Linked DNA regions of Homo sapiens: regions 1 and 3 are each linked to region 2. Evidence: fine-mapped expression QTL. A gene starts in region 2. Each other region holds a variant in brackets. All regions are shown on one strand. Distances are between the middles of the regions.

Evidence for each region.
Region 1: its variant is fine-mapped to the expression of NECAP2 in whole blood (TOPMed, PIP above 0.99).
Region 3: its variant is fine-mapped to the expression of NECAP2 in whole blood (TOPMed, PIP above 0.99). The same link has a PIP of 0.9 or more in T cells and blood mononuclear cells.

The regions. Positions count from the first base shown.
Region 1 is chr1:16,500,151-16,508,328 of GRCh38, reverse strand. No RefSeq gene overlaps it. Among named protein-coding and RNA genes, the nearest start is that of RNU1-1, 10 kb to the left of the region's middle. The variant T/C (reference allele first, on the strand shown) is at 3,283.
Region 2 is chr1:16,437,009-16,445,186 of GRCh38, reverse strand. It overlaps NECAP2 (NECAP endocytosis associated 2), which reads right to left and starts at 4,463. Exons shown (of 8, transcript NM_018090.5): 1 at 4,334-4,463; 2 at 1,455-1,555. The coding sequence starts at 4,425. It overlaps SPATA21 (spermatogenesis associated 21), which reads left to right and starts at 7,763. Exons shown (of 13, transcript NM_198546.1): 1 at 7,763-8,059. RefSeq lists a silencer at 6,863-7,033.
Region 3 is chr1:16,474,291-16,482,468 of GRCh38, reverse strand. It overlaps the pseudogene CROCCP3. Among named protein-coding and RNA genes, the nearest start is that of LINC01772, 17 kb to the right of the region's middle. The variant G/A (reference allele first, on the strand shown) is at 4,526.

The sequences.
Region 1 (8,178 bases), 63 kb before region 2:
AAAGGTTCACATTTTCACCAAATATCTCCAAGTTGCCATTCCCCAGGTCCTTCCTAAAAATATAGATTGGAGGATAATTCAGCATTGTACTAAAAAGCCAGACAAATCTGTCTTTGCTTAACTAAAATGGTTTGAGAGCCAGGTGTGGTAGTTCATGCCTGTAATCCCAGCACTTTGGGAGGCTGAGGCGGGTGAATCACTTGAGGTCAGGAGTTCGAGACCAGCCTGCCAACATGGTGAAACCCTGTCTCCACTAAAAATACAAAAATTAGCCAGGTGGCTACTCAGGAGGCTGAAGCAAAAGAATTGCTTGAACCCAGGAGGTGGAGGTTGCAGTGAGCTGAGATCCTGCCACTGCAATACAGCCTGGGAGACAGAGCGAGACTCTGTCTCACAAAGAAAAAAATAAAAAGAAAAATAGAAAAAAAAACAGCAGGGTAGTAGAAATATAATGCACACAAGAATGATAATCATGAAGACAATCTGATTCTACAAGAGTAAGGGAACCTATTCCATTAGAGAGCCAACTGAAAACATCAAATCCCAGTTCACACCCCAGGGTGTGGGGCCACGTGCCTGTAGTCCCAGCTACTTGGGAGGATTAGTAAGGAGGTTTGCTTGAATTCATGAGGTCAAGGCAGAAGTAAACCCTGATCATGCCACTGCACTCCAGCCTGGGTGACAGTGAGACCTTGTCTCAAAAACAAACAAACAAACAAACAAACAAAAACCCACAAAACCAAACAACAACAAATTGTCCCCTCACTCTGAAATGACAGTGGCAAACATCACTTTGCTATTGGAAAATTAATAGAAAAACACTCCCTTTTACTATCAACCTGGCTCTTTCTTTAACATGTCTGACCCATGGTTTAAAATGCCCAAAAGCTGATGTACTCAAATTATAATACACTTACCTGTTCTGCACCAGCATTTATTTTTGTCTGGAGGAGATCACCATCCATGGTCCTATAAATGTCTAACAGCATGGAATGATGAAGGGCAGTGTCTTTTAGGATATTTGGTTATATCTATATATATGGCTCTGAAGAAACCCAACGTTGGGTGAGTTCCCTCAAACTTTTCACTAGGCATGACCACTGCTCTATTTTAGATCGAGATTCTGTGGGGCAAAACCTGAGAATTATCTGCCTGGCTATCAAGAAGATAGCTCCTTGCATTTTTTGGGGGAGAACACTTTTGCTTCAAGGGAGTGTTTCCTCCCAGGATTAGAAATCTTTCTGTAACCTCAGGAAACATTGCTGATGAAAACCAGGCATGGTGTGCTGTACAACTTGTAGTAATCAGGCAGAAGTTAAAAGGAAAAGACAGGTTTCCCTGTACTTGGCTGACTCCAAGACCTGCCATAGATAGAGCCCTAGCAGATCCTCGGTAACACGATCTGAAAAGTCAGAGCCCCGAGGAATGCGTTCCGGAGACTCTCTCAACACAGCCCCTAGCAAAGATAAGAGGAAAAAACAACAAATGCCTTTACTACCTTCTCTTTCCCCCTTTCCATTTCTAATTATTCAAGTTTTGTTAAGTTCCCGATTTCCCTTCAGTGCAGCTGCAAGGTCACCAGCCATACTTGCATTGCAAGACCTGTGACAGTTTGATTAGCTGCCTTTCTTCTGCTTCTGTAAGCCCTCTTGCCTGCCCCACGAGTTTCGTGCCATCAAATTCCCGCCGCGCCATTCAAACTAGCCAACCCCCTTTCAGAAGTGTCTATAAAGTCAAGCCCTGTCTTTGTTCATGGCTCAGCTTTTGGATTTTAATCCACTGTGCCTGAGTGCAGTCAATAAATCCTCCTGTTCCACCTATCGGTCTCTCTGTTCTCCTGATTCCCACAACAGTAGTAGGGGACTGCGTTCACACTTTCCCCTGGTCTTTCATGGTATGAATAATAGACGGCATTTTTTTTTTTTTTTTTTTTTTTTGCCTATAGTCGCAGGCTCAGTCTCAGTGATTGTATGCTGTGGTCAGCTGTTTTTGTTTTTGTGACACCTTGTTTTCTTGTTTACTGTCCTGGGACAGATGTCTGTAGTCACTTGTTTCCTTGGGAGGCAAATTTCAGTCTCTGTGGGGGAGGTCTCCCATGTTAGCTGTGGTGGTACTTGGCAGGCAGAGCTCAGGGATCTAGGCTTCCCTGCTTTGTAGATTGCTCAATGGTCCCCAAGGCCTACTGGCTTTTAACACCACTTGAAAACCTTAGTGTTTTTCCGCTGTCCCCAGAATCACCTCTTACACAGCCTCTTTTTTTGTTTGTTTGACTTTTTCCCTGAGACAGAGTCTCACTGTATCTGGTGGCATCTTGGTTCAAGTGATCCTCCTACCACAGCCTCTGGAGTAGCAGAGGCACGAGTCACCACAGCCAGCTAATTTCTGTTGTTTTTGTTGTTGTGGTGGTTGTTTTGTTTTTTAAGAGTTGAAGTTTCTCCATGTTGCCCAGGTTGGTCTCCAACTCCTGGACTCAAATGATCCGCCCTACCTCAGCCTTCTAAAGCACTGGGATTACAGGTGTGATCCATCATACCTGGCCAGCCCCTGCTTTTCACTATAGCATCCATGGGAGTTTCTAGGATTTCCGTGCTGGGGGGAACGTGCACTCAGCTCATAGAGCCAAGTAGTAATTGTACTTGGAACTGGTGCCATGCTTCAGGGAGTGTTTATTCAATTTGCTAGGAGCCCATGAGGCACAGGTACATGGTGACTCAGTAGTTCCCACTGCACCCATCGCCCTCCTTGGTCCTCTCACTGTCTCTGGCAGGCAGTAACATTCTGTGTGAGCTCCGGTGCTGAAGACACCCAGGCAGGAAGGGTAGGGAAGGGCACCAGCCCCTTAGGTCCTGCACATTAGGGATCCAAGAAAGGTCTTGAAGAAACAGAAAGGGAGCATTGGGAGTAGATCAAAGTGAAAGAAAGAAATCCTAGGAGATTTCCTATCTGAAGGCACCATGAAGAGAAAGTCTGCCTCCTCTGGGCTGCATCCTCCCTTTGCAGGTGAACCGAGTTCTGGTCTCCATAGGAAACCAAAGCAGATAACTTTGTCCTGACTCCTAGTTAGGAAGCCAGGCTTTGTCTTCCCCTGTTTAATGCTTGATCCTGTAGTACTTGATTGTCTCTCCTGGGCTTTCTATGGATTCCAGGGATGCAACTGAGAAGTTTATTTTTAAAGCACTTTTCCTTGAAGTAAGAGTATTTTTGGCCAGGCGCAGTGGCTCACGCCTGTAATCCCAACACCTTGGGAGGCAGAGGTGGGCAGATTACTTGAGGTCAGGAGTT[T/C]GAGACCAGCCTGGCCAACATGGTGAAACTCTGTCTCTACTAAAAATACAAAAATTAGCTGGGTGTGTTGGTGCAGGCCTGTAGTCTCAGCTACTCATGAGGCTGAGGCGGGAGAATCCTGTGAACATGGGAAGTGGAAGTTGCAGTGAGCTGATGTCAAAAAAAATTTATTTCACTTTATTTTATTTATTTATTTATTTATTTATTTATTTAGAGACGGGGTCTCGCTCTGTTGCCCAGGCTGCAGTGCAGTGGCACCATCTCAGCTCACTGCAGGCTCCGCCTCCTGGGTTCACGCCATTCTCCCACCTCAGCCTCCGGAGTAGCTGGGACTACAGGCGCCCACCACCACACCCAGCTAATTTTGTTTTTGTATTTTTAGTAGAGTCAGGGTTTCACCATGTTAGCCAGGATGGTCTCGATCTCCTGACCTCATGATCCGTCCACCTTGGCCTCCCAAAGTGCTGGAATTACAGGCGTGAGCCACCACACCTGGCCTAAAAAAAAAAAAAAAAAGTATTTTAGAATCTTTTGGCAAAGGAAATGATTTCTGACTGACAGGTTTTGCACTTAAGACATTCAGGTGTGAGGAAAACACGAAAACCACTATGCTAGGGAAAGGAAATGCTGTTGAGAATGTCTCACAAGCACAAACTACATGTCAGCAGGTAGGTTTGACCCTCAGGTTGGGCACATTTTACTTTAAGCGCACTGTCGGTGGAACTTACAATGAATCTAAGACATTCATGATGTGTGTGTGTGTGTGTGTGTATGAGAGACAGAGAGACAGGGTCTTGCAATCTTGCCCATACTGGTCTCCAACTCTGGTCCTCAAGCGATCCTCCTGTCTCCTCCTCCCAAAGTGCTGGGACTACAGGCATGCACCACCTGGTCCAGCCCATTTTAATGTTTTTAACTTAAATACACATTCCAAAAATTATATAAGTACAGGAAGCCAACTTTATGCCAGTTTTACAAAAACAAAGTGGCAACATCCTAAAGTACTGAAAGAAATAAAGTTTTCCTAGAATTCCATGTCAAAGTGAAAAATCTTTCAAGAATGTGACTGAAATAAGGACATTTAAAGACATACAAAAAAATGAAAGAATTCAGCAACCCACACTACAAGGATACCAGACAGAAATCTGCATCTACACAAAGAAATGGAGACTACTGGAAATCGGTATGTACACAGTTAAATATACATGTTCTTATTATTTAAATCTTTTAAAATAATTTGACCGATTAAACAAAGGCAATAATAATGGATTCTGGGTTTTATAACATGTCTAAAATCAAATTACATGACAACACTAGCATAATGGCCAGAAGGGGAGGTATAATGTCACTAGATGGCACTGATAAAGATGTATTCTGGAAACCCTGAAGCCTTCACTGAAAAAGCAAAAGGAGGGAAAGAAGTCAGGGAGTGGTGGACCAGAAGAAAGAAAGAGTTATACCTAATAAGCCAACAAAGGAAAGAAAATGGAATGATATAAAAACCATGTAATCACTATGCTGGAACAACTGCTCTCCATGCACTCCAGCCTGGGAGACAGTGAAACCCTGCCTCAAAAAAAAAAAGCCCACCGTTAGGGCTGGGCAGGGTGGCTCATGCCTGTAATCCTAGCACTTGGGGAGGCCAACCTCGGGTTGATCACCTGAGGTCAGAAGTTCAAGACCAGCCTGGCCAATATGGCGAAACCCCATCTCTATTAAAATACAAAAAAATGAGCCAGGCATGGTGGCGGGTGCCTGTAATCCCAGGTACTTGGGAGGCTGAGGTAGGAGAATCGCTAGAACCCTAGTAGGGGAGATTGCAGTGAGCCGAGGTTGCGCCACTGCACTCCAGCCTGGGCAACAGAGCGAGACTCCGTATCCAAAAAAAAAAAAATCCTACACGTAAAAGGTCACCAAGGCTAGCAAAAATCACCTGGTGGCCATAAAGCAGACCATCCAGAGGCAAAACTCCTTATCTGAGGAATTTAGAGGCAATTAGAGTTCCTTACTATCTAAAGCAAGAATCTAGTTCCAGGCTTCTTTCCCAAAAATTTATAAGTAACTAGAATGTCTGCTTTTTTTTTTTTTTTTTTTGAGACAGAGTCTTGCTCTGTTTCCCAGGCTGGCGTGCAGTGGCACAATCTCGGCTCACTGCTACCTCCATCTCCTGGGTTCAAGCAATTCTCTGCCTCAGCCTCCCAAGTAGCTGGAATTACAGGTGCCCGCCACCATACCCAGCTAATTTTCGTATTTTTAGTAGAGACAAGGTTTCACCATCTTGGCCCGGCTGGTCCTGAACTCCTGACCTCGTGATCCACCGCCTTGGCCTCCCAAAGTGCTGGGATTACAGGCATGAGCCACCGTGCCCAGCCAGTAACTAGAATTTCTATACATCTCTGGAATACATGCCTATCAAAACTTGTGCAACCCTTGCTCACATTAAGGCACCAAAATGTCTACAAATGTAGTACATTGTGAGCCACCACAACCGGCCTACAAGTTTTTTTTTTTTAATCATTGGGTCAGGAGTGAATTGTTGGGCTGGTGGATGATGTCTGTAATCCCAGCACTTCGGGAGGCCGAGGTGGGTGGATCACTTGAAGTTAGGAATTCAAGACTAGTCTGGCCAACACACTGAAACCCCACCTCTACTAAAAATACAAAAATTAGCTGGGTGTGGTGGCAGGCGCCTGTAATCCCAGTTACTTGGGAGGCTGAGGCAGGAGAATTGCTTGAACCCAGGAGGCAGAGGTTGCAGTGAGCCGAGATTGCGCCAGTGTACTTCAGCCTGGGTGACAAGAGCGAAACTCCGTCTCAAAAAAAAAAAGGAAATCTTTTTTTTTTTTTTTTACAATATGGGCTTATTCTGTATTACTTTTCTGAAACTTTCACTTAATATATCGTAACCATCTGTCCAGTCATTGAACATTCTTCTATAACATTTGGAATGACATCATAGTGTGCCATTATATGAATAACCCATGGTTTATTATACAAGTCCCCTACTGCTGAATGTTTAGGTCTTTCTAACTTTTTGCTATTAAAGTCTGGCATGATAGAAAGACTCTGCAAGTTAGCCTTCAGATGCCCAGCAAATCCAGTTAACCAGAGCAATTACCTCTAAGCCTCCTGGTGAATGTCGTTTTGCTGATGGTGGGCAGAGTCCACCCCAGCCGAGCCGCTGGATTTGGCAGGCACTTGGCCTTAGCAACCTGAGGGTGGTAACTCCAATCAGTTGTTTCCCTGTTACCTGAGTTGCAGATTTAGAGCCCTCTGCAGTGAGCAGGTGAGCACCTGGCATGATTCTTTTCTGGCGGGTTGTCTTGGGGGTCACTGGGCCAGTCACCACCTGGTGACAGGACAGGGTGACCGGTGGGCGGCAGCACTGGGGATTCAAATGACCGCAGCCCGGTCAGGCTGAGCTGAGCAGAGCCAAGGACTCAGCACAGCAGGGAACGTAGGCTCTACACAGAGAGGGGAGCTGGAGGCCCCCCCAAGGAGGTTAAGTATGTGCCACCCTGCGGCAGGGTCCTATGGGCTTTGGGAGTGAGAGGGTCAAGGGGAGAGGAGCTGTGTTTGCCGCCCCCTGTTAAAACCTCAAGTGAGTCAGCACGGTGTAGAGGAAAGAGCATGGGATTGGAAGCCATTGAACTTCCTGCGTGTGTCCTTGGGCAAATGACTGCATGTCTCTGATCCTCAATCTCCCCTTCTATAAAATGGAGATGATCCTAGAACCTGCTTCACGGGAGTGTTCAGAGGGGACTGTGGACAGAGCGGGAACATAGAAGAGGAAGTAGGCGGCAGTGTGGTTCACAGCCAGCGCAGGCTGCCCGCAGGGTGCAGGTACTGTCACCAAGGGAGACCCAAGATGCCCTGGAGAGAGGGGCAAGGACACAGGCCTGAGCCCAGCCCTGGTGATATGAACACTGGAGTGGGCTTCACAGGGACAGGCAGCATCAGAACTGGACTGGGGAGGTCATGAGCCCACCAGGGCCTGGGTAGGGACATAGCAAGTCTGGGGACTCCAGACAGGGTCACACAGACCTGGGCCATGCTGGGCATCCAGGGACTGGCTGTGCATACTGGCAGATGTCAGTCAGCCCTCCTGCAGTTGGGCCAGGGACACCTCAGGGAAACTGTGACCTTCCTTCCAATCTTGGTAACATCACCCTTCCAACCCAAACCCCAGGGAATGGCCCGAATCTCTCCTGACAAACAGCTCTCAGCCCTGGTCCAGGCCACAGTCTTGCTTGCACTGGGCCGGGTTTCAGAGCCCGAAGGGCACACTGGCAGCCTTTAGTGCAGTGTTTCAGATGTCACAGACAGGTTCCTCTTTGACAAAGATGGAACTTCCACTGCTTCCCTCCTACCACGCAGGAAACACAGAAGCAACCATCAGCCGCGGGCCTGCTGGCCGTTCTCTCTGGGTACTGTGTTTGGAAAAAACACAAAATCATTAAATTAAACATGCTTTTTCAAACCAAACACATCCCTCTCTTAGCCCTAGAGATTCAGAGCTGCCTCTCCCTTTGAAAATGAATGATCTCGGCCGGGTGCGGTGGCTCACGCCTGTAATCCCAGTACTTTGGGAAGCCAAGACGAGTGGATCGCGAGGTCAGGAGTTCGAGACAAGCTTGGCCAATATGGTGAAACCCCGTCTCTACTAAAAATACAAAAATTTGGCCGGGCACAGTGGCTCACGCTTGTAATCCCAGCACTTTGGGAGGCCGAGGCGGGCAGATCATGAGGTCAGGAGATCGAGACCACGGTGAAACCCTGTCTCTACTAAAAATACAAAAAATTAGCCCGGCGTGGTGGCGGGCACCTGTAGTCCCAGCTACTCAGAGAGGCTGAGGCAGGAGAATGGCGGGAAACGGGAAGTCGGAGCTTGCAGTG
Region 2 (8,178 bases):
ACAGGGGAGGCTCAGCCCTAGGCAGTGCCTGTTACGTTAGGGAGTCATGTTAAAGTCACAGCTGGCTGGGCACAGTGGCTCACACCTGTAATCCCAACACTTTGGGAGGCCGAGGTGGGCGGATCACGAGGTCAGGAGTTCAAGAACAGCCTGGCCAATATGGTGAAACCCCGTCTCTACTAAAAGTACAAAAAAAATTAGCTGGGCGTGGTGGGGGGGCGCCTGTAATCCCAGCTACCCGAGAGGCTGAGGCAGAGAATTGCTTGAACCTGTGAGGCAGAGGTTGTGGTGAGCTGAGATCGTGCCACTGCACTCCAGCCTGGGTGACAGAGCAAGACTCCATCTAAAAACAAATGATTTTTTAAAATAAAGTCGCAGTTACCAAATTCCTCAGAGAACGAGGTGTTACCATTCTCTTATGACACTACCTGGGGTGTCCCAGCAATTCTCCAGCTTAAAGTCTCTGGTCTGGCCATGGCAGCTGCCTCTCCAAACTCCTCTGCCGCCAGTACCCAAGTTCCCGAAGAACACATCAATGCTTTGGGTTGCCTCGCAGTCCGTAAAGCATTACAGAAATATCTGCTCACTTCCTATTCTCCAACAATCTTATGAAGGAGGAACTAATATGATCCCCATTTCAACAAGGAGGAGGCCAAGGCCCCAGAGGTCATGTGGCTCACCCCACATCCAGCAGCTCAGGCAGAACATAGTTCTGAGAAGAGGCAGCCAGTTCTCTCTCTAAACTTTTGCACTTTCTCTTCTGCTCTACAAAGGAAAATCTCTACATATTAGAAAAAATAAATGACCGAATGTTGTGGCACCTGACTGAGCAGACACTGTGTCCGACCCCACTAGGGGTCTCGGCTGGGGGATTCCAGGTGCACTGCCCTCCACAGCTCACCCAGAGGCACAGGTGGCCCAGGACTTGTGAAGTTTCCCCCAAGACGATCTCTGCCAGCTGACCCCAACACAACCCAGCTCAGCTCGTCCTCTCACTACAGAAAGAGCTGAGTAGGACAGTTTCCAGCTTCTTCGGTTAATGGGTGTGGTCAGCTCTGGGAGTTACCGCTGCATTGATAAACAATTCCTCAGTAGGAAGCAGAGCCCAGCGGCAGAGGGCTGTGCATCCTCACCCGCCTGTCTTCAAGGCCACTTCCAGGGCTTCCTACTTCCTACCAGGACCAAGCTGCGGTCTCCTCTCCTTGGCCCCCACATTTTCCTGAGGACTCCTAAAAGGAACTAGTGTTTGACATGAAATACTCATTTTTACACCTGGAGACGGTACTTTCTACAACTAAGGTGGGGGAATGGTACAGCTTAAAGGTACACACACGTCTCTGATTTTTCAGGACAGGTTCCCATGACCCCTGAGCAGCCTGGCCAGACCAGGCCACCTCTCCCTTCATAAAGTGGGGTGCGGCCCCTCAGCTTGATGCAGCCTCCCTTCCGGTTACCTGACGTCCTGTCCTCCAGCTTGATGTAGGCCATCTGTCCCTTTGCAGTGATCCTCAGCCGGCCACTCCATGATGGCTGGTCCAGCTGCCACTCCGCAGCCCTAAGGGGACAAACACCACTGAATCTCTGCCAGAGGCTCCTGCTGTGTGACCCCAATGCTGGGAATGGAAAGGGCTGCTTATTCTAGCCCAAGAGTTGGCAAACATTTTCTGTAAAGAGTCAGACAGTAAATATCTTTGGCTCTACAGGCCACACAGCCTGTCACAACAAGGCAGCTCGGCTGCTGTAGGGTAAAATCAGTATAGAACATGCACGTGGTGATGCTTTAGGTATCTTAACTATTTTCTACTGAGCACAGCTGTATTTCAATCAAAGTGTAGACACTGAAATCTGAAATTCATGTAATGTTCCCAGTATGAAATACTCTCCTTTAAAAATTTTCCAAACCATTTAAAAAATGTAAAAACTATTCTTAGGTGTGAACCATACAAAAACACACTGGGTTGTCACTTGGTGACCCCCTCTCTAGACCACAGTGTCCTCCTCCACGTAGGACTTCCTTCCAGTTTCCTTTCTATAGAAGCAGCAGCTGCAGGGGCCTGATTCTGTTTCTGACACTGCTTGACTGCAGCAGTCAGAGCGACCATTTGAGACCAGTGAGACTATCTTGAAAGAAAAAGACAGCATGGAACAATCACCAGAAGAGAAAAGGAGAACAACAGTACATGTGAGAAAAGTGAATGGGTCCTTAGGAAGAAACCCAGGAAACCATGAACCTACAGCAATGCCTCTTTTGGCTCTAATTTGTTTGAGACGGGGTCTCACTCTGTCACCCGGGCTGAAGTGCAGTGGCGCAACTACGGCTCACTGAAGCCTCAACCTCCTGAGCTCAAGAGATCCTCCCACCTCAGCCTCCTGAGTAGCTGGGACTACAGGTGTGTACCAACACACCAGGCCAATTAAAAAAAATTATAGAGATAGGGTCTATGTTGCCCAGGCTGGTCCTGAAGTCTTGGGCTCAAGGGATCCTTCCACCGAGGCTTCCCAAAGTGTTGGGATTACAGGCGTGAGCCACCACAGCCAGCTGTTTTGACTCTTTTAAAGCATTAACTTCACATTTTAGTTCTAAGAAAAGGTCAGTTAAATCCCCAAATAGCAAGAACCGCAGGTGTTTCCAGGAGGCTTTTCTTAGAAGTCCCTATGCCAGTTCTCAAGAACCCTGGACGCGGCTGTCTTGAGGGCTGCACAAATGCAGATTCTCAATTCACAAATCAGCAGACTCAGTTCCTGTTCCTCTTACCAGGCCTGAGATTCAGGCTAAGGAGAGCTCCAAGACTTAAGTGCAGGCACTGGTAGTTTCCTCTAAGCTAAACCAGCCAGCCCTGACAATTCATAACCTCGCTCTCTGGGGCACCAAGAGGAACCAAATCCATCCTACTAAAGACCCAATAGGGGGCCGGGCGCGGTGGATCCTGCCTGTAATCCCAGCACTTTGGGAGGCCGAGGCGAGTGGACCACCTGAGGTAGGGAGTTCGAGACCAGCCTGACCAACATGGAGAAATCTCATCTCTACTAAAAACACAAAATTAGTCGGGTGTGGTGGTGTATGGCTGTAATCCCAGCTACTCGGGAGGCTGAGGCAGGAGAATCGCTTGAATCCGGGAGGCGGAGGTTGCAGTGAGCCGAGATCGCACCATTGCACTCTAGCCTGGACAACAAGAGGGAAACTCTGTCTCAAAAAAAAAAAAAAAAGACCCAACAGGAGATGGGGCTAGACGACCATCAATGGTTTGATGGTCCAACCACAGTTTGATGACAGAAAACAAATGTATTTTGGTTATTGTTGTTTTTGTTTTTATACTATTTTAAAATATGTCATGAATGTAATGTTCACTAACGCATCTTTTCACCATAAGATCAGCTATGAGCCCACGGTAACACAACTGGAAAGTAACAAGAGGAAATGTGGACGTTCCATCATTCTTGGGGTGCAGACCAATCCTGTATTTCCGAAAAACTTGGACAACCATCGCCTTCAAGAGCCACCCAGGCCCCCGCAAATACGAGCACTCCCCACCACCACTCAGTGGCACAAAATAGCCATAGGCCAGGTTGTCTGTATGAAGTGTATCTTTTTTCTTTTAATATTTTTCGTCGTTTTGATAGATAACGCATACAAAGAGTAGTAAAACGCAAACAGCACAAAAGGGAAAGGAAGTTTCCTTCCAAGGGCGGTTCCCCTCCCCTAGGGCAGTTTCCTGTGTTCCTTTGCAGAGATACTCAGTATGTTTACAAGCGTGTGTGTTTATTCGTCTCAGGTAGAGACCAGAGAAATATAGAAGGGGTCCTCCCAACTGCTCCAGGCTGTGATCAAGGGTGAAATTCGTGCGAAGGGATCTGGGTAGGAAGGGGTCCCTGGGCTTCGACCGTCACCTTAAAGCTCCCCGGGACCGGTCCTTTCAGCCGGCTCTGGGCTCCCTCCCCTCCTCTCGGGGATTTCCGTCTGTGATAGGGCACCTCCCCGCTTAAGGCTTTTCGAGGATCCCTTCAAGGCCACCGGTTAGCGCTGAAAGAGAAGCGTCTGTGACATCACCACCCCCGACCAAGTTTAGGGTACCCGGCAGCCCACCGGGGTCCCTAAGCGCTAGATACGGCTTTAACGCCCTCCCCGCCGCCAGGAGTCCCGTGCGTCGAACTGAGACGGGCGAAACTCTGGATCCACCTCCCTGCTCGGGCCTGGAACTGGAAGAAGCAGCAGCATTAGCTCCCCCTCGCCCCAAAACTGGCCAGGGCTGTCCTCGGTTCCCGCAGTGGGTGTGTCCGGGTGGCGGAGAAAGGGTTAAATTGGAGCTAGCCTGGTCTGGCGGTGGGTAGTCACCTGTAGCCACGGTTGGTAGCCCGCGGAGGGATGCGGTAGACGTGGACGTCAGGCTTGACACAGAGCACCGACTCGTACCCGCTCTCCTCCATCGCGACGCCTGGAGCCCACCGAACTTCCGGCGACTTCCACCGTTCCTCTGTCCGACGGACGGAAGCGGTGCGACTCTCTGACCAGGTTTCGGCTAGAGCGGCAGCTCGCGGGCCTCAGCACCGCCTCGTTTGTGCGCCCTCTGCTGGAAACCCGGCTCAAGACACGTGGCGGGCGACCTCCGGAGGCTTCTCCCTCCCTCCAGAGGCTTCTCCTTCCCTCCAGACACCCTCCGACGCAAAGAAAGCGCCCTGCGCCCGCCATGGACAGACCCCTCTGTAACCCGTGGTCTGGGTGTGGATCATCCCCATCGCTTCAGTTTCTTAGGCCTGGGGCCCAGTTGACCGAGAGGCAAAGCTGTAGCCCACCCTGCAGTATCTCTGTCCTCCAGCCTTTGCCTCGGCGCCTCCTCTGCCTGAATATCCTTCCCTCTCCTGACTGTAAGGCTCAGCTGGCACCTGACCCACCAGACTAAATAGATGCCATTACCCTACCACCCTCCATGCTTCCCCTAGGGGAACCCACTTATATGCTCAGGGCCCCGTGTGGCCAAACCTCAACAACGAGTTGTATTCAAAGAAGTAAAGTTTAGTAACACAAGTAATTTAAGAAGAATTCCAGGCCGGGCTTGGTAGCTCACGCCTGTAATCCCAGCACTTTGGGAGGCTGAGGCGGGCGGATCACCTGAGGTCAGGAGTTCGAGACCAGCCTGGCCAACATGGTGAAACCCCGTCTCTACTAAAAATACAAAAATTAGCCGGGCTTGGTGGCGTGTGTCTGTAGTCCTAGCTAGTTGGGAGACTGAGGCACTAGAATCGCTTGAACCCGGAATGCGGAAGTTGCAGTGAGCTGAAATTGTGCCACTGCACCTCAGCCTGGGTGACAGAGCGGGACTCTGTCTCAAAAAAAAAAAAAAAGAAGAAGAAGAATTCCAGTCTTAACTTCGATTTCTCCCAGAATATTCTGGGAGATACAATGTCTACCCTAGCCAAATTCTCAAAATCCCTCCTTCCCTACCATTCTCTCATTGAGTTGAGTGCCTGCAATGTGCCAGCCCCTATGTGGGGGTGAAGCTGATCCCAAACTTCTGATTCACTGAATACCCCAAACTTTCCCCACCCCTTCTTTCCTTTTCTCTCTCACTCTCCTTCTCCTTTTTACTTTTTTTTTTTTTTTTCTTCAGACAAAGTCTCACTCTGCCGCCCAGGCTGGAGTGCAGTGGTGCAATCTCGGCTCACTGCAACCTCCACCTCCCGGGTTCAAGCGATTCTCCTGCCTCAGCCTCCCGAGTAGCTGGGATTACAGGCACCCACCACCAAGCCTGGCTAGTTTTTGTATTTTTTTGGTAGAGACGGGGGTTTCATCTGGTTGGCCAAGCTGATCTTGAACTCCTGACCTCAAGTGATCCGCCCACTTCGGCCTCCCAAGTGCTGGGATTACAGGCGTGAGCCACCACGACTGGCCATTTCTACTCATTTTTTATAAGCTTTTTATTATAGGATTGATCTAACCACTTACATTTTTATTGTAAAATATACATAACATAAAATTTACCATTTTAAGTGTACAATGCTGTGAAATTAAGTACATTCACAATATTGTGCAACTATATCATGCTTTCCAGAACTTTTCATCATCCCAAACAGAAACTCCACACCCATTAGCAATAACTTCCCATTTCCTTCTGCTCCATCCCTTAGTAACCTCTGTTTTACTTTCTGTCTCTATGAATTTGCCTTTTCTAGATACCTCTTATAAGTGGAATCATACAATATTGGGCTTTTGTGTTTCTTATTTCACTTAGCATCAAGTTTTCAAGGTTCTTTCATGTAGCATGGATCAGAATTTCATTCCTTTTAATGGAGGGATAATATTCCATTGCATGTATATACCATATTTTGTTTATCCATTCATCTGTCAACAATTGGGATGTTATCACCTTTTGGTATTGGGAATCGGGCTACTATGAGCATTGGTGTTCAAACACTTGTTCTAGTCCTGTTTTCCATTTTCTTGAGTGTATACATAGGAGTGAAACTGCTGAGTTATACAATAATGCTATGTTTAGTGGTTTTGTTTTGTTTTGTTTTGTTTGAAACAGCATCTCACTCTGTTGCCCAGGCTGGAAAGCACTGGCATGATCATGGCTCACTGCAGCCTCAACCTCCCAGGCTCAAGTGATCCTCCCAACTCAGCCTCCCAAGTAGCTGGGACTACAGGTGTGAACCACCATGTCCGGCCTTGCTCACCTTTTTGAGGAGCCTCCAAACTGTCTTCCACAGCAGCAGCACCATTTACGTTCACAAGGGTTTCAATTTCTTCACATTTTTGCAAATATTGGTTATTTTTCTTTTCTTTTCTTTTCTTTTTCTTTTCTTTTTTTTTTTTTTTTTAGACAGGGTCTCTCTCTTTCTTTCTCTCTCTGTCACCCCACACTGGAGTGCAATGGTGCGATCATCACTCACTGCAGCCTCAAATTCCCGGGCTCAAGGGATCCTCCTGCCTCAACCTTTTGAGTAGCTGGGCCTACAGGCACACACCACCCTACCCTGCTATTTTTCTTACTTTTTGTAGAGACGGGGGTCTTGCTATGTTGCCCAGGCTGGTCTTGAATTCCTGTCTTCAAGAGATCCTCCTGCCTCAGCCTTCCAAAGTGCTAGGATTATAGGCATGAGCCACCATACCTGGCCTTATTTTCCAATTTTTTTTTTTTTGAGACTAAGTCTCACTCTACCACCCAGGCTGGAAGACAGTGGCATGATCTCAGCTCACTGCAACTTCTGCCTCCCAGGTTCAAGTGATTCTCGTGCCTCAGCCTCCTAAGTAGCTGGGATTACAGGCATGCGCCACCATGCCTGGCTAATTTTTGTATTTTTAGTAGAGACGGGGTTTCACCATGTTGGCCAGGCTGGTCTATAACTCGACCTCAAGTGATCCACCCACCTCGGCCTCCCAAAGTGCTGGGATTACAGGTGTGAGCCACCGCACCCAGCCATTCAGAGCACTTTCAGTTCTGTTCAGTCTAACAAAGACAGGCATCGAGCACATACCCTATGCCAGGTGCTGAGTACTGGGGTCACTGGGATGTGGCCAATCCAGCTCCTACCATCCTGGAGCTCGCAGACTGGAGGAGACAGAGAGAAAAGCAGTCATTGGCAAAGCAGAATGAAAGGTACTGTAATGAAGCAAATTCACAGGGGCCTGTGGGAGCAAAGAGAAGAAACCCCACACAGTCTGGGGAGAGTCAGGGAAGGCTTTCTGGGAGAGAGTACCCTGGCCCAATAATCACTGTGAGGTTGGCAAGGCAACGATTGTTATCTTCATTGTGTAATGGGGGCCACTGAACCAGTGACAAGCTGGGGGAAATGACACTGTCCAGTAGTTGGAGGTCACACAGCCCCTTGCCTTATTCTCAAACCCTAACCACATGGCTGGATATTCCTGAAATGCATTCCTAAACCTCTGCTGCTGAGAATAATTGGACCTGCCATCTATTCCCAGTTTAACTGCCCTGTATACCAAACAAATCCAATTCAAGCCAACAGGCAAAGTATAGGCTCAGACAGAGCCCATCCTATGTGCAAGGCGGTGAGCAGGGGTGGAAAATCTCACTGTGACTCATCCAGCTGATTTCTGGTAGGTGCAGGGCCAAGGTGGGGTGTAAGGTGAACAAGCTTTCCCTGACGGCCTCCAGACATATATATGATATGCCACTTATCTTTATCTGCTGTATTTTCCTGCCATCATAGATATTT
Region 3 (8,178 bases), 37 kb before region 2:
GGATATGGGACCGAAGCCTGAGAGTTAGGTTTCCACTCCCTTCCTCTGTGCCCTCATCACCCTCTGAGCCCTCACCTCCCTGGGTTCCTGGGCAACTCTGATCTCAGCCCCAAGGATACTAGACAAGCCCCCAACATTTCTAAATTTTTTGTAGAGATGGGGGTCTCACTATGTTGCCCATGCTGGTCTTGAACTCCTAGCTTCAAACACTCTTCCCACCTCAGCCTCCCAAATTGCTGGGATTACAGGCACAAGCCACTGTACCTGGCGCTATTAAAATTTAATTAAAAATTTGAAAAAGTGAAAATTCAGGCTGGGTGTGGTGGCTCACAACCCAGCTGGCTGGCCAACATGGTGAAACCCGGTTTCTACTAAAAATACAAAAATTAACCAGGCATGGTGGCATGCTCCTGTAATGCCAGCTACTCGGGAGGCTGAGGTGGGAGAATCACTTGAACCCCGGAGGCAGAGATTGCAATGAGCAAGGATAACACCACTGCACTCCAGGCTGGGAGACGTAGTGAGACTCCATCTCAAAAACAAACAAACAAAAAAGATGCGGTGGCTCACACCTGTAATCCCAGCACTTGGGGAGGCCGAGGTGGGCGGATCACGAGGTCAGGAGATCGAGACCATCCTGGCTAACACGGTGAAACCCCATCTCTACTAAAAATACAAAAACAAAATTAGCTGGGTGTGGTGGCGGGTGCCTGTAGTTCCAGCTACTCGGGAGGCTGAGGCGGGACAATGGTGTGAACCTGGGAGGCGAAGCTTGCAGTGAGCCAAGATTGCGCCATTGTACTCCTGCCTGGGTGACAGATCGAGACTCCATCTCAAAAAAAAAAAAAAGAAAAAGAAAAAAGAAAAAGAAAATTCAGTTCTTTAGTTGCCCTAGGCACATTTCAAGCACTCATCAACCACACATGGCCATAGAATGTTTCTGTCATCTCAGAGAGTTCTATTGACAGCGCTATTCTGGACCGTATTTCTTGGAGTTTTTTGTTTGTTTGTTTGTTTTCAGAGATGGGGTCTTGCTGTGTTGCTCAGGATGGTCTCAAACTCCTGGCCTCAAGCGATTCCCCTGCCTCGGCCTCCCAAAATGCTGAGATTACAGGCATAAGCCACCATGCCTAGCCTTGAAGATTGTTTTTTTCTTTTAATTTGAGACAGGGTCTCGTTCTGTCACCCAGGCTGGAGTACAGTGGTGCGATCTCAGTTCACTGCAACCTCCACCTCCTAGGCTTAAGTGATCCTCCCACCTCAGCCTCCTGAGTAGCTGGGACTACAGGCACACACCACCACGCCTGCCTAATTTTTCTGTTTTTTGTAGAGATGGGGTTTTGCCATGTTACCCAGGCTGATCTCTAACTCCTGAGCTCAAATGATCACCCATCTTGGCTTCCCAAAGTACTGGGATTATAGGTGTGAGCCATCACACCCGGCACCTTGAAGATTTTTAAGACAAGAAATTATCCACTTTTTTTTTTTTTCCGCAGTCTTGTTGCCCATGACACGATCTTGGCTTACTGCAACCTCCGCCTCCCAGGTTCAAGCAATTGCCTCAGCCTCCCTGGTAGCTGGGATTACAGATGCCTGCCAGCATGCCTGGCTAATTTTTATATTTTTAGTAGAGATGGGGTTCCACCATGTTGGCTAGGCTGGTGTCGAACTCCTGACCTCAGGTGATTCGCCCACCTCGGCCTCCCAAAGTGCTACATTACAGGCATGAGCCACCGTTCTTTGCACCTTGAAGATTTTTAAGACAAGAAATTATCCACTTAGCTGCCAGGTTGTTTTTGATATTTTGTTGTTTGGTTTTTCTCTTCATAAATGTAACCATCTAATGAAAAGTTTGAAAAATAATAGAAATAAAAAGACCTCGCCTTCTCACAGCCTCATCTGCCCATCCTAACTCATGTAGGGCACTGGTTTTCCTTCCCACTGTGTTGCCTGGCAGTGAGATAGCAAACGTTTCCTTCACACCTACTGTGTGCCAGGCTCTTGGCTGAGTGTTTTATACATACTCTGTGATTTAGTCTTCCTGTCAAACTTATGCAATTCAGAACTCTTTTGTTGTAAGCTTGAGAGGCTCGCTCAGACTCATACAGCATGTGTGGCTGGGGTGGCAGGGTGGGAATTGGAATTCAGGTCCATGGGAGAGTAAACCCAGGCTTTCCATGCCTGGAAAGGAGAAGGTCTTTTTAAGTAGTTGTGTTCACAGCAAACATCCCATTTTGCATTCTGTGAAATGTGGAGATGGGGGTCTCACTATGTTGCCCACGCTGGTCTTGAACTCCTAGCTTCAAACACTCCTCCCACCTCAGCCTCCCAAATTGCTGGGATTACAGGCATAAGCCACTGTGTCTGGCTCTATTAAAATTTAATTAAAAATTTTAAAAAGTGAAAATTCAGGCTGAGTGTGTTTTACTGAACAGCACGTTGTCAACTGGGCACAGTGGCTCACGCCTGTAATCCCAGCACTTTGGGAGACTAAGGCGGGTGGATCACTTGAGGTCAAGAGTTTGAGCCCAGCCTGGCCAACATGGCAAAACCCCATCTGTACTAAAAATTTTAAAAATTGGCCCGGCATAGTGGCTCACGCCTGTAATCCCAGCACTTTGGGAGGCCGAGGCGGGAGGACCACCTGAGTTCAGGAGTTTGAGACCAGCCTGACCAACATGGAGAAACCCTGTCTCTACTAAAAATACAAAATTGGCTGTCCGTGGTGGTGCATGCTTGTAATCCCAGCTACTTGGGAGGCTGAGGCAGGAGAATCGCTTGAACATGGGAGGCAGAGTTTGCGGTGAACCGAGATCACACTATTGCACTCCAGCCTGGGCAACAAGAGTGTCAAAAAAATAAATAAATAAAAGTACAAAATAAAAAAATAAAAATAAAAAAATTAGGGCTGGGTGTGCCCTTTTAGCCCAATTTTAGCCCAAAATTAGTATTTTGGGATACCGAGGCGGGCAGATCACTTGAGGTCAGGAGTTTGAGACCAGCCTGGCCAATATGGTGAAACCCCACTTCTAACTAAAAATGCAAAAATTAGCTGGGCGTGGTGATAGGTGCCTGTAATCCCAGCTACTCAGGAGGCTGAGGCAGGAGAATTGCTTGAACTCTGGAAGTGGAGGTTGCAGCAAGCTGAGATTGTGTCACTGCACTCCAGCCTGGGTGACAAAGTGAGACTCTGTCTAAAAAAAAAAAAAAAAAAAAAAATTGCTGGACGTGGTGGCTCACACCTGTAATCCCAGCACTTTGGGAGGCCGAGGCGGGCAGATCACGAGGTCAGGAGATCAAGACCATCCGGCTAACATGGTGAAAACCCGTCTCTACTAATAATACAAAAAATTAGCCGGGTGTGGTGGCAGGCGCCTATAGTCCCAGCTACTCAGGAGGCTGAGGCAGGAGAATGGCATGAACCTGGGAGGCAGAGCATGCAGTAAGCCGAGATCACGCCTGGGTGACAGAGCAAGACTCCGTCTCAAAAAAAAAAAAAGAAAATCACATCGGGAAAGTTTTTCGCACCTACCGCCAGTGGGGAACGTGGCAGCTCACGGCAAGTCTTTGGGGTCCCAGTTGTTCCCTTCTCCTCCCTCCCCTGCCGTGGCCACCATGTGACTGTGTAGCAGGAAGCCATGGGATCTGCAGACTCAGCTCTATCAGGCTTCCCAGAATTGAGGGGCATGGGTTGTTATAGGGGACATTTCCTGGTCACGTGGCCTAGCAGGGTTGGTGGCACAATTGCCCATGTATCCCAGGAGCCTAACCTGGCCTCTTCTACCTGGTAGGGTGCTTGGAGATAAAGCCAGCACCTCCATCCACTCCAAGTGGATGGGTTGGGGAGAAGGAAAGCCAGGTTCTTCTGCTGGAGGATGTGAGTGAAATGAGTCAGCTACGGGCAGGGTCAGGGAAGGCTTCCTGGAGGCAGGTTCCTTGGAAAACGGGAGATTATAGCTCATGGCTAGAGGAGCAGCCAGCCACCTTCCCTGCAGAGAGCAGCCCCAGCATCCCCTCTGCTTGTCCTGAAGGGAGAAGAGCAACCTGGCCCACAGCCTGCAGGTGGCCCAGCAGCAGGCCAAGGAGCTGCGGCAGGAGCGGAAGAAGCTGCAGGCTGCCCAGGAGGAGCTGCGGCGCCAGCGGTACTGGCTGGGGGAAGAGCAGGAGGACGCAGTGCAGGATGGTGTGCGGGTGCGCCGGGAGCTTGAGCACAGGTGAACAGCATCTCGCCACCCTGCCAGGGCCCTTCAAATGTGCCTCAGGTCCCCTGACAGTGCCCCGGGGGTTAGGGAGCACCCACTGGGTCCTGGGCCTCCTACCATCTGGACCCCTCTGATGTCGGGTTTTCTAACCAGACCCATTGCAGGAAATTGGGGCTCAGGGAGGTGTACTCACTTACCTGGGGTCAGAGAACTAGTTAAAAGGTAGAACTTGGATGATAATAACAAGAATAATTAAAATAACAGTAGTAATATTAACGATAGTATTTTTTAAATTAAGTTATGATCATAATAATATCCTTACT[G/A]ATTTCACTAAGTGCCAGATACCATTTTAAGCAATTCAGTTCTCTCATTTAACCTATGATAACTGTGACATAGAAGCTGTTATCTTCATTTTATGGACGGTAAACTGAGGCACAGAGAAGCCATGTCACTTGCCCCAGGTCACACAGCTAGTTAGAAGAGCCAGGATTTGAACCCAGACATTCTGCCTTTAGAGTTAACCTCTTCACCACTGCGCTGCTTACCTCTCAGGGACGTGATCGCTGATGATGTTTAGTAGACTGTGGTGGAGCATGTTATTCTTGTTTCTGAAGGTCCTTGGGGAGATGTGTCAGGCACTATTTTAAGCACATGTGAAGTTTGTAGCCTTAAAACAGGCTGGGCACGGTGGCTCACGCCTGTAATCCCAGCACTTTGGGAGGCCGAGGCAGGCGAATCGCCTGAGGTCAGGAGTTCGAGACCAGCCTGGTCAACATGGGGAAACCCTGTCTGTACTAAAACTACAAAAATTAGCCAGGCGTGGTGGTGCATGCCTGTAATCCCAGCTACTCGGGAGACTGAGGCAGGAGAATGGCTTGAACCCAGGAGGCGGAGGTTGCAGTGAGCTGAGATCTCACCACTGTACTCCAGCCTGAGCGACAGAGCGAGACTCTGTCTCAAAGAAAACAAAGAAACTATGTGACAAGGTAGGTGTTACCTCATTTTGCAGATGTGGAAACGGAGGCCCAGGGTCATGGAGCTAAGCAGTAGTGGGCTTGGTTGCCCTGTGGCTCAGGCTGTTTCTCTCCAAACTCCTGCCTCAGGCCTGGTCCACAGCCAAGCATCTCGCTGGCTGTGGGAGATTCGGGGCAGGAAAGTGACATGGGCCACCCACCTGCCCTCTGTCCTGCAGCCATAGACAACTGGAGCAGCTGGAAGGGAAGCGCTCAGTCCTGGCCAAGGAGCTGGTGGAGGTGAGGGAGGCGCTGAGCCGCGCCACACTGCAACGGGACATGCTGCAGGCCGAGAAGGCCGAGGTGGCCGAGGCGCTGACCAAGGTGGGTCCCTGTTGGCTGCACAACCACAAACCTACATCTGACCCCCAGCCCCAAGCCTTCTCACTCTGGCACAAACTGGTCCCAGTGTCAGGCAGACCTCTGAGCCTGGTCACAGACTGACCCCTTCCTTCTGGATACAGGCTGATCTTTGTCACAGACCACAGACCTCTGGACCTCTGGTCCCAGCCATAAGTGGACTGACCTCTCTTTATGGCCGTATCCCTGCTGTTCTGGATGCTCCTGGGGGCAGTGCCTATAGCTCAGGGTCATCCTGAGATTCAGCTCCTGGGGTCTGAGAGTTGTGGCCACAGCGCAGAGGGTCCTTGGCGGGGGGGCCTGCGCTGTCCGCTGCAGCCTGGGCTCTGAGCAGTGCTATCCCTAGACCTTACTCAGGGGATCCTCTGAACTCTGGCCCTGCCCTCCAGGCTGAGGGCAGAGGAGGCCTCCCTGCAGGACTCCCTGTCCAAGCTGAGCGCCCTCAACGAGAGCCTTGCTCAGGACAAGTTGGATCTGAACCGCCTTGTCACCCAGGTACGCTGTGCACCTGCGGGCCCACCTGCCTTGCCCACCCGTCCTCCCCACTCAGTAAGGCACCCCGGGCCCAGCCCTGTACCTGTCTTGGCCCCTGCCTCCCTTTCTGTCTCTGGTTCTCTGTCTGTCTCTGTCTGTCTATCCTCTCTAGGCATCAAAGCACAGAAGCTCCATGGGCCCTCCTCATCTCTCCCTCCCCAGTGTCCCACACACCCAAGGGCCCTGTCCCTCATTGCCTGGGAGCCTCCCCTGGGCTATTGTGGCTGGTGGGTGGGTGGAGGAGGCGTCCTGGTCCTGGGAGGGATGCCCTGCTCACGAGGCCCCACTCCTACCCAGGCCACAGCTGGAGGAAGAAAAGTGCGCCCTGCAGGGCCGGCAGCGGCAGGCGAAGCAGGAGGCCACAGTGGCACGGGAAGAGCAGGAGCGGCTGGAGGCGCTGCGGTTGGAACAGGAGGTGGCGCGGCAGGGCCTGGAGGGCTCCCTATGAGCGGCGGAGCAGGCCCAGGAGGCAGTGGAGCAGCAGCTCCCCACGCTGCATCATGAGTGCAGCCGGCTGCAGGAGCAGCTAGCGCAGGTGGGCCAAGCTGTGTGTGGGGTGGTGTGGAGAGCATGTGGGGCAGGCTGGGCTCCCAGCCCCCTGCATCCAGTCCTGGGTTAAGTCACAGGCACTGGAGCCTGCTTCTTGGTTAAATCCAGCCCCACTTCTGCTAGCTGGGGACCTTGGACAAGCTGCCCAACCTCCCCATACCTCAGTTGCCCCATCTATAGCATGGGGCTAGCTGGGTGCAGTGGCTCACGCCTATAATCCCAGCACTTTGGGAGGCCGAGGCGGGTGGATCACCTGAGGTCGGGAGATCAAGACCATCCTGGCTAACACGGTGAAACCCTATCTCTACAAAAAATTAGCTGGGTGTGGTGGCACGCGCCTGTAGTCCCAGCTACTCAGGAGGCTGAGGCAGGAGAATCGCTTGAACCCAGGAGGCAGAGGTTGCAGTGAGCCGAGATCGTGCCACTGCACTCCAGCCTGGGCAACAGAACGAGACTCTGTCTCAAATAATAATAATAATAATAATAATAATAATAATAATGATACAGATTAATAATAGGTCGAGACTTTTTAGAATTGGAATCTTAGACTTTTGGGAACATCACATCTGGAAGAGACCTTAATGTCTCATTTTCAGGGATCCAGGGACCTTCATGCAAGGTCTATCCTGGAGTGCCTGGGTTTCTGGGAGGGGCCTCTAGAGGATGGGGTAGGGGGTGCAAGAAGCAGGGTGCAGGTCTCCACCTTGAGGCCTGCTGAGCAGCTGCACTTGGGTCTGTTTTATATATTCAGCTTCTCTTCTTAGAGTAATACAAGGGTTCTGTTACTCCCAAAGCTGAGTGAGGGCCCTCTTTTTTGTTGTTGGTTTTTGTTTTGTTTTGTTTTGTTTGAGACAGAGTCTTGCTCTGTTGCCCAGGCTGGAGTGCAGTGGCATGATCTGGGCTCACTGCAACCTCCGCCTCCGGGGTTTAAGCTGTTCGCCTGCCTCAGCGTCCCAAGTAGCAGGGACTACAGGCGTGCACCACCATGCCCGGCTAATTTTTGTATTTTTAGTAGAGACAGGGTTTCACCACCTTGGCCAGGCTGGTCTTGAACTCTTGACCTCAAGTGATCCACCTGCCAAAGTGCTGGGATTATAGGCGTGCACCACCGTGTCCGGCCGGGCCCTGGTTTTTGTACACACGTGCATTGCAGAGCTAGAGAAGGTCATGACTTGCCCAAGCACATATAGCACATCAGGGCAGACCCTGGGCTCGAACCCAGGCTTTCTGCCAGGACTGGGTTAGGCCCAGAGTTGGGGTGCTGCACGATCAACAAGCTGGGGGATGCTGGGAGTTCTGCTGAGTCTCTGGGTGGGGGCCAGCTCTCCCAGCAGCTGAGCTGGCGGGAGCAGAAGCTGGAGGAGGCCCAGGGGGTTGGCCCAGTGGCAGGTGGAGGCGCTGGAGCCAGCAGCCCGCGGGGTATCCGGTTCCACAACTACGCGCCGCGCCCCCGCGCCCGTGTGCGGGATTCACCCAGCTGACACTCTCCCGGTCCCAGAAGGTGCAGCAGCCGGCGGGTT